Regions from separate parts of the Homo sapiens genome. Here region 2 is linked to region 1. Evidence: fine-mapped expression QTL. A gene starts in region 1. The other region holds a variant in brackets. All regions are shown on one strand. Distances are from middle to middle.

Region 1 (4,520 bases):
CCAGCGGGGGGACCAAAAGGAGCTCAGGAATGGGGCAGAGCATGATGGACTCCAGGCAAATCACTGCCTTTTTCTGGGCCTTCACTTCCCTCTGTCTCCTTCCCTTGTTAGAGCATCTGGGACCCCCAGACAGCATCCCAGGCTGAGATCTCGCAGGAACTGTTGATGGTTGGAGAGCTGGGGTTATGTGTTCGTTGAATCCCAGCAGAAAGCAGTGCAAGCTTCAAGGCATCTGGAGGGAAGCATTTATGAACTCTCTGGGAAGGAGATTGGGAAGGGCTGGGGCCACAGCCCTCTTCTCCTCTGACCTGGAGCCTAGCTCAAGGTGATGATAGAAAGACAACGCACCTCTGGCCGGGCGTGGTGGCTCACGCCTGCAATCCCAGCACTTTGGGAGGCTGAGGCGGGCAGATCACTTCAGGTCAGGAGTACGAGACCAGCCTTGCCAACATGGTGAAACCCCGTCTCTACTAAAAATACAAAAATTAGCCAAGTGTGGTGGCACGTGCCTATAATCCCAGCTACTCAGGAGGCTGAAGCAGGAGAATTGCTTGAACCTGGGAGGCGGAGGTTTCAATGAGCAGAGATCACGCTATTGTACTCCAGCCTGGGTGACAGTGTCAGACTCTGTCTAAAAACCAAACAACAAAAACAAAAAACAAACAAAAACACTAAGACAACTGACATCTAATAAGGGCTTGCTCCACCCTCTGTTTTCATTCCTGGAGCAAGCCAAGAGGCTGATTCCTAACCTCCACTTTATAAAAGAGAAAACTGAGGCGCAGCGACAGCAAATGACTTGCCCTTGGAGCCTGGTCTTCTGGGCCCTTTGAATGGGGTGATATGGTTTGGCTCTTTGTCCCCTCCAAATCCCATGTTGAACTGTGATTCTCAACGTTGGAGGTGAGACCTGCGGGGAGGTGATTCATGGGGGCAGACCCTCCTGAACAGCTTAGCACTATCCCCTTGGTGATGAGTGGGTTCTCGCTCAGTCACTTCATGGGAGATCTGGTGGGTTTGTTTGTTTGTTTTTGTTTTGTTTTGTTTTGTTTGAGACAGAGTATGGCTCTGTTGCCCAGGCTGGAGTACAGTGGTGTGATCTCGGCTCTCTGCAACCTCTGCCTCCTGGGTTCAAGCAGTTGTCCTGTCTCAGCCTCCCAAGCAGCTGGGACTACAGGCACAAGCCACCAAGCCCAGCTGATTTTTGTATTTTTTTTTTTTAGCAGAGATGGGGTTTCACCATATTGCTCAGGCTGGTCTCGATCTCCTGACCTCAGGTGATCCACCCACCTCGGCCTCCCAAAGTGCTGGGATTACAGGCGTCAGCCACCGTGCCCAGCCAATCTGGTTGTTTAAAAGAGTCTGGGACCTCCCACTTTGCTCTCTTCCTCCTACTCTTGCCAGGTGACACGCAGGCTCCCCCTTAGCCTTCTGCTGTGATTGGAAGCTTCCTGAGGCCTCACCCAGAATAAATGCTGGTGCCATGCTTCCTGCACAACCTGCAGAACTGAGAGCCAATTAAGCCTCTTTGTAAATTACCTAGACCCTGGTATTTCTCTTTTTTATTTTTTGAGACAGGATCTTTCTGTCGCTCAGCGTGGAGTGCAGTGGCGCCATCTCAGCTCACTGCAACCTCTGCCTCCCGGATTCAAGTGATCCTCGTGTCTCAGCCTCCTGAGTAGCTGGGATTACAGGCATGTGCCACCATGCCAGACTCATTTTTGTATTTATAGTAGAGACAGGGTTTTGCCATGTTGGCCAGGCTGGTCTTGAACTCCTAGCCTCAAGGGATCCGCCTGCCTCGGCCTCCCAAAGTGCTGGGATTATAGGCGTGATCCCAGCCTAGCCTGGTATTTCTTTATAGTGACACAAGGACTAATACAAGGTCCTTCCTTAGGATAGAAGGAGAGTCCTTACTGTGGGGATAATATCAGAATAATGCTAGAACACTTTCTGCTGCAAGGGACAGAAACCCACCTCAAACCAGCTTAAGCAAAAAAGGAAATTTATCAGCTCATTGATTCAGCTAGGGTAGGCAGGGTTATGCTGTGGTAACAAACAGCCCCATCTCAGCAGCTTAGAACAACAAAGGATTGATTCCTTGCTCACGATACACGTCTATCACAAGTGAACTGAAACTTCAGTCCGTATCTCCTTGCTCAAGGACCCAGGTGCCCAGGCAGATGGAGCAGTCACCATCATCATCTGTCTCTGTGACAGAGGAAAAACACCCCAGGGGGTGTGGTAGCCATCTGAAAAATGCTCTGCCCAGAAGTGAGACTTATCACTTCTGCTCACAACTGCCCAGTCCCAGCCAGTCACATGGCCCCATCTGGCTACAGAGGGTCAGGATGTACAATCCTGCCATGTGCCCAGCATATGGTGAACAGCATAATGACTTCCATACTCATGTATCTAAACGGTCCAGGAGAAACGTGGTTTCAGGCATGGCTGGATCCGGGATCTCAAGAGCTATTACCATCTCTCAGCTCTGCTTTCTTGTGTGTTTCTTGCTGCCCCTCCCAGTACCCTCCTTACAGCTTAGTAATCCCAGCAGAAAGAGAGCATGGACCAGCTAGGGTATGTCTGTCCCTAAACTGTACTGTTGCCAGGGGGAAGAAATGTCCTACTGGGCAGGCCTGGTTCACATAGCCACTCCCAGAGCTGGGGTCAGCCACGTCTCCAAACTGCTGCACAGGCAGATGCAGCAGGCACCCACGGCGTCTGCTAAACCTTCCTCACCTCTTGATCTAGGTACGTTCCAGCAGAGCAAGGTGAAAAAGAGCTGAAAGTGGCATCAGAAGCCCAGAGTTCTGGTTCCAGCTCCGACCACTCATTCAGTGTGTGACCTCAGGCAGGTCACCAGCCTGAGCTGTGCCTTCATTTCATCTGTCAGACGGATGACTCTGCCCCTCAGAGCTTGCAGACGGCAAGGTGAGGAATGCGGCAGCTGGGAAAGTGACGTTGCTATCGGTCCCCCTTCCTCTTCAGTGAGTCTTGTCAGCAATTCTGGCCTGGTCTTTGGAGGGCGAGGAGCGCCTGTCCCACTTGCTCCTGACCCTTGGTCGTACCTCCAGGCCTTTGTCCAAGCTCTTCCCTCTGCCCCAAATAGCTGGTACATGTAACAACGCCTATTCATTTTTCCTTTTTTTTTTTTTTTATGAGACGTAGTCTCGCTCTGTCACCCAGGCTGGAGTGCAGTGGTGTGATCTCTGCTCGCTGCAACCTCCATCTCTCAGATTCTCCTGCCTCAGCCTCCTGAGTAGCTGGGGTTACAGGCACCCGCCACCGCACCCAGCTAATTTTTGTATTTTTAGTAGAGACTGGGTTTCACCACGTTGCCCAGGCTGGTCTCAAACTCCTGACCTCTAATGATCTGCCCGCCTCGGCCTCCCAAAGTGCTAGGATTACAGTCATGAGCCACCACTCCCAGCCTCCTATTCATTTTTCGAAGTCCAACCAACACCACCTCCTCCCTGAAGCCCCCTACTCCTCTTGATGTTCTCTCTGGGCTACCATCGGTGAGCTGGGACTCACTCATACCAGCCAGGAGGGCAGATTGTGCATATCTCTTCCCAACTCTGTGTTTAGACTCAAATCAGGAGCATGAAATTACACCATGGAAATAAGCAAATGCTACAAATCAGGCTTTATTGAGTGCCTACTATGTGCCAGGCTGGGACTAAAGGCAGTGAACAAAATAGAGTTGCTGGCCTGGTATAACTTGTGTTTTATCTTTATCTTTGTTTCCAGTATGCATTTATCTCTGTCTATCCAACCAATCATTCTTCCTTCAAGCTTTTTATTAAAGCCATTAAGAGTAATATCAAAGACTTTTGCACCAACTTAATACCATCTTCCTATCCACCCACACATCCATCCATCCTCCATCCACCCTCCTACCTACTAATCCCTCCTTTCAGGTGAGCCAGCTCTTGTCTCCAACTTTTATTTTTAAGAGACAGGGTCTTGATCTGTGACCCAGGCTGGAGTGCAACGGTGTAATCACAGCTCACTGCAGCCTCAAATTCCTGGGCTCCAGCGATCCTCCCACCTTAGCCTCCCGAGTAGCTGGGACTATAGGCAAGCACCACCACACCTGGCTAATTTTTTTAAAAAATAATAATTTTTGTAGAGATGGGGCCTTGCTATGTTGCCCAGGCTGGTCTCGAACTCCTGGCCTCAAGTGATCCACCTTCCTTGGCCTCCCAAAGTGCTGAGATCACAGGTGTGAGCCACTACGCCCGGCCCTCCAACTTTGCTCCTCTGTGTTTATAAGCTGAGTTCCCTTCAAAGGTGGGATTCTGAGGAGCCTCATCTGCCCCAGTCCAGAGTCCCCCAATCTGGCCTCAGGCCTTCCCCAACCATCTGTGTTCCCCTCCGCCACCCAGCAAGCTCTGGGTGCAGGAGAGCTGTGCTGCTTTCCTGGGAGCCTGTGGCTCAGGTGGCACCCACAGGTGGCTCCTGGAACCTGTTGCCCCCAAGAAGGTGTGAAAACCACAGCACATCTGGACCCAAGA
Region 2 (4,000 bases), 30 kb before region 1:
AGATGGAGCCTTGCTCTTTCACCCAGTCTGGAGTGCAGTGGCACGATCACAGCTCACTGCATCCTCAACCTGGCCTCAAGTGATCCCACCTCAGCCTCTCATAGTCCTGGGACTACAGGCGCACCCTGCCATGACCAGCTAATCCTACAAATTAATACCATTCTGTTTTTCTACATTTCTTTTTAGCTTTCAGCTGCATACATATAAATGTTTGCCTAGCTGCAGGCAAACTAGTTCAGAGCTGTTCTTTCTCTCTCCTCACCAGTAGTCTAACCCTGGCCTGCTCCTTCCTCCCACCTTCATTGCCTGAAAAGCTCCAATTTACCTTCCTGTAACTGCCCATCATGTCCGGAATGATCTGCCAATTGGGCGTAATTACCCTGCTCATTCTCTGTTCTTGGCCGGATACTTCTCATGCTGTTTCTGTCACCTCTGGTACCTCTTGGCTCACCGGCGTGGCTGGTCCACAAGGCAGCGAGACCTCTTATTTGCCTTCCAGGAAAAAGCTCTGCCAGTCCAGTCCAGGGCCCCTTCCAGGCAGTAGTGCCACAAGGCAGCTTTGGAGGAGCCCGGGTGTGCCTCCGGGTCTCAGCCAGGCCAGGCAGGAGAAACCCAGCTGGGGCTTTGTGCCCAGATGCTCCTTGCCTGCCAACTATTAGATCCCTTGTCTTGACCGCTTGTCCCCTGTTCTCTCATCCCTCAGTCCTCTCCTGAATTCCATCCCAACCTCTTTTCCAAGGAAGAACCTGAAAGGTGACATGTTGCCATCCCTAATTTCTGTTCCCTGCATCTGCAATGGCTTCGTCATTGCAGAGCTGATGGGTAAGTGGGGCGTCCCTCCATCTGCTCCAGCTCTGGTGCAGCTGGAGGAGGCAGGAGGGTCCTGCATAGGTCAGTGTTGATGGACTCTCGCCGCTTACCAGAACTTACAGACTTTTTGGGTCACCTCATCCTTGGGGATGTAAGAAAATAACTCGTCAAGCGGCTTTCTCATGTCGGCCTTGCCTTCCTGTGTTATTGACCAAGATGTTCTCCTGGGTCTGCTAATTTTGTACATTCTGCTTCTACTAACATAACATACAAGCACAACATACAGAACGTTTCTGAGCACACATGATGCATAATTAGGACACTAAGACCTCTAACTAAACACACTTTGCATCCCCATGATTCCCTCTAATACAGCGCCCTTTCAGGCAGTTCCCCCCCGCCCCGTTGGGCACCTTTGTCACACATGGCGCTTGCTAAAATACACTCTTTCCCGCTGGTCACTGAGGCCTCGTCCTATACTTGTCTGCCCAGAATCTCCCTCAGTGTCTGGCACATGGTGGGCCCAGTAAATATTGTGAGGTGACAGTTGTGGGGATTCTCTGAGGAAGGAGGCTGCACAAAACACATTTTGTCCACTTTTTTATGGTAATTCCCCATGATGTCGTCTCTGAGGATACTGACTTTTTGTCTTGGCTCTGTGTTTGATCCAGGTGAAGGGCCCATTTGTCACCTGGCAGGTGGTACGGGACATTTTGCATGCCACGTTTGAAGAGTCTTTGGATAAAACATCTCATTCCGTTGGACGAAGAGCTCGCTACATAGTCAAAAACCCACAGGCCTATCTCAACTATAAGTAAGCCTCATTGAAGCCCCGTCACTCCGGGACACGGTTACGTTATCCCGTTTGCTTAAGAGTCTGGTGGGAAGTGTGGCTGGAGCACACTGAGGTGTCTGATGGGCTGGCCAAGTGTTGGAGTCTGCTGGGGAGATGGACCTTGGTTTTTTGAGGGTGAGGGCCAAGCATGATTCTGGGTGCTTTCCCATGCAAGGTATTGCTTAGACCTTATAGCGGCCATGAGAAGTAGGTGGTGGTATCCTTTTTTTGGATGAAGAAGCGGAGACTAGATAGGCTGACTCGCTAAGTACCACGTGCCTAGCTGGTGGTGGAGGCAGAGGCAGAGGCTGGCTTTTCCTGCTGTTTTTGGCCCTCAGAGCAGTTCCTGAGAGCTCTGATTGGTGGCTCCCTCCAGCAGCAAGCTAGGCAGGACCTGGGATCATTGGACAGGATGCCCTCTGCCATGTTCTTAGCAGAGCTGAGAACTGTCTTCCTGCCCTGCCCTTGTGTGTGTGACCTCAGGGAGTCCCCTTGCCTTACCAGGCTGTAAAGCGGAATGAGTCTGTACCTGGCAAGCTCTTTATGAAGGCAGCAGTGCCTGGTGGACGGGAGCCCAGCAAATGCTGGTCGCCTTCCCCTTCATTTTCTTTTGGGCAAGTCAGGCTCTCCTTATATCATGGAGATGTGAAGGTTAGTGGAGTGGACACACCTGCTTTGCAGTAGATTAGAGAGCTTAAGAATAATAAACCCCAAAGCCTGTTTGATGTTTTTAAATGTGTGATGCACTTTCACATAGGTCAGCCCATATGGTCCTGGACAAACCCCTGTGAGAGACAGTTTGGGACTCAGTGTTCTCGGTTACCTATGAAGGACG[G/A]AAGTTCAGAGAAGCCAAGGTGTAAAGTGTGAACAGACCTGACTGAGGTCAGGCTTGGCTGACCCCAAATCCTTCATTCGTAAAAGCTGCAGTTGTGCAACAGGCATATAAGTAACTCATGCTTCAAGGTCGGCCAAGGCCAGAAACATGAGAATGGAGCTCTCTGAAGGTTCTGAACATGGGCATCATTGCAATTCCCAGACTTCAGCTTTGTCTCCTCTTCCTGCAGAGTGTGCCTGGCCGAGGTGTACCAGGATAAAGCACTTGTTGGAGATTTCATGAATCGAAGAGGTGACTATGATGACCCAAAGGTAGGTCCTGTGTGAGTGTAGGGCTTGGTATGCTTGGGAGATTGGGGCAGCTAGACTTCAGTCAGCTCCTCTCATCCCACAGTGCCCCTGCCAGCCTTAGGAACGTGGACTTTGTTTCCTGCTCACTTGAGAAATCACCGAGTCAGCTCTCTGGTGTTGGCCTTCACTTGATCTGGCTTCAAACACCTGTTTTTAAAGATGATTAGAATCTGACAGGCCACTTTGAAGGGCTGCTGTGCCTTGGGCCTGTTTTGTTAAGAAAATAGAACATTTCTTCAGAAATTACAGGCTTCCTAGAAAGCTCGCAGACTGGGTGTGGGTTTTCTTTCCGAGTTTTCTGTCCAGAGGGGCCAAGGCGGTGGCTGACAAGGAGGGAAGCTGTCTGCTGACCCAGACTCCTGCCCTTCGCCTCAGAGGCTGCTCATCTTTCATTTCTGTGCTAACCCTGGACACTACAGTGTGTGTGGCAGGACTTGTGCCAAGTGAGGCCAGTGGACAAGGAGAGGCTACCTTTTCCGCCAAGGAGGCCACAGGCGAGTGGGACAGACAGAGAAGTACATGGCCATTGCAGGACAGTGTAGTCAGCTCCCGGAAGAGGAAGGCACAGGCCCACAGAGGTCAGGGAGGAGGCTCAGCAATGCTTTTGGATGGAAGTGACAGAAAAACCTAACCTAATGAGAGTATACAGCTTCCTTTTTCCCAAATGCCAAGCAGTTGAGGGTAGGCAGTCCTGGTCTGGTGCAGGGGAGCAGAGATGTCATCAGGCTCCCAGGTTCCTGCCGCCACACTCCCCTCCAGGAGCAGTGGTCAGCTTTCCATCCTATGCCAGTCACCCCCTGGTTGCAAATGTTGACAATGAGAGCTCAAGTCCTCACAACAGAATTCCAGAGCAGGAAGCAGTGGGGAGAGGGGCTGCAATAGACCCACATGGCCCTTGTATCAGGGGACAGCCTTTCCCAGGAGCCCCTGGCAGACCTGGGCCACGTGGCTGGGAAACAGTGGGACATAGCACAGGGGACTCAGGCTGCCATGAGTGGCTTAAACTGTCCTGGTGTATCCTAGGAGACTGGGCATCCTCCCTCCCCACAGCAAATTGAGACTGGCTAATCAGAAAGTGTGGGGAAAAATGGAATAGGTGACCCACAGACACCCACAGTGTCTGCCAGTGGGCTTAGTAAAGGTGTCAGCACTGGGCGAGACTGGAAACCA

Evidence for each region. PIP is the estimated chance that this variant, and not a neighbour inherited with it, causes the effect.
Region 2: its variant is the best candidate, but not a certain one, in a credible set for the expression of IL21R-AS1 in lung (GTEx, PIP 0.79).

What each region holds. Positions count from the first base shown.
Region 1 is chr16:27,451,157-27,455,676 of GRCh38, reverse strand. IL21R-AS1 (IL21R antisense RNA 1) reads left to right here and starts at 2,284. Exons shown (of 3, transcript NR_037158.1): 1 at 2,284-2,580; 2 at 2,755-2,934. It overlaps IL21R (interleukin 21 receptor), which reads right to left. Exons shown (of 9, transcript NM_181078.3): 9 at 3,635-4,520. RefSeq lists an enhancer at 2,777-2,876.
Region 2 is chr16:27,481,835-27,485,834 of GRCh38, reverse strand. It overlaps GTF3C1 (general transcription factor IIIC subunit 1), which reads left to right. Exons shown (of 37, transcript NM_001520.4): 25 at 1,482-1,624; 26 at 2,710-2,791. Among named protein-coding and RNA genes, the nearest start is that of IL21R-AS1, 30 kb to the right of the region's middle. The variant G/A (reference allele first, on the strand shown) is at 2,481.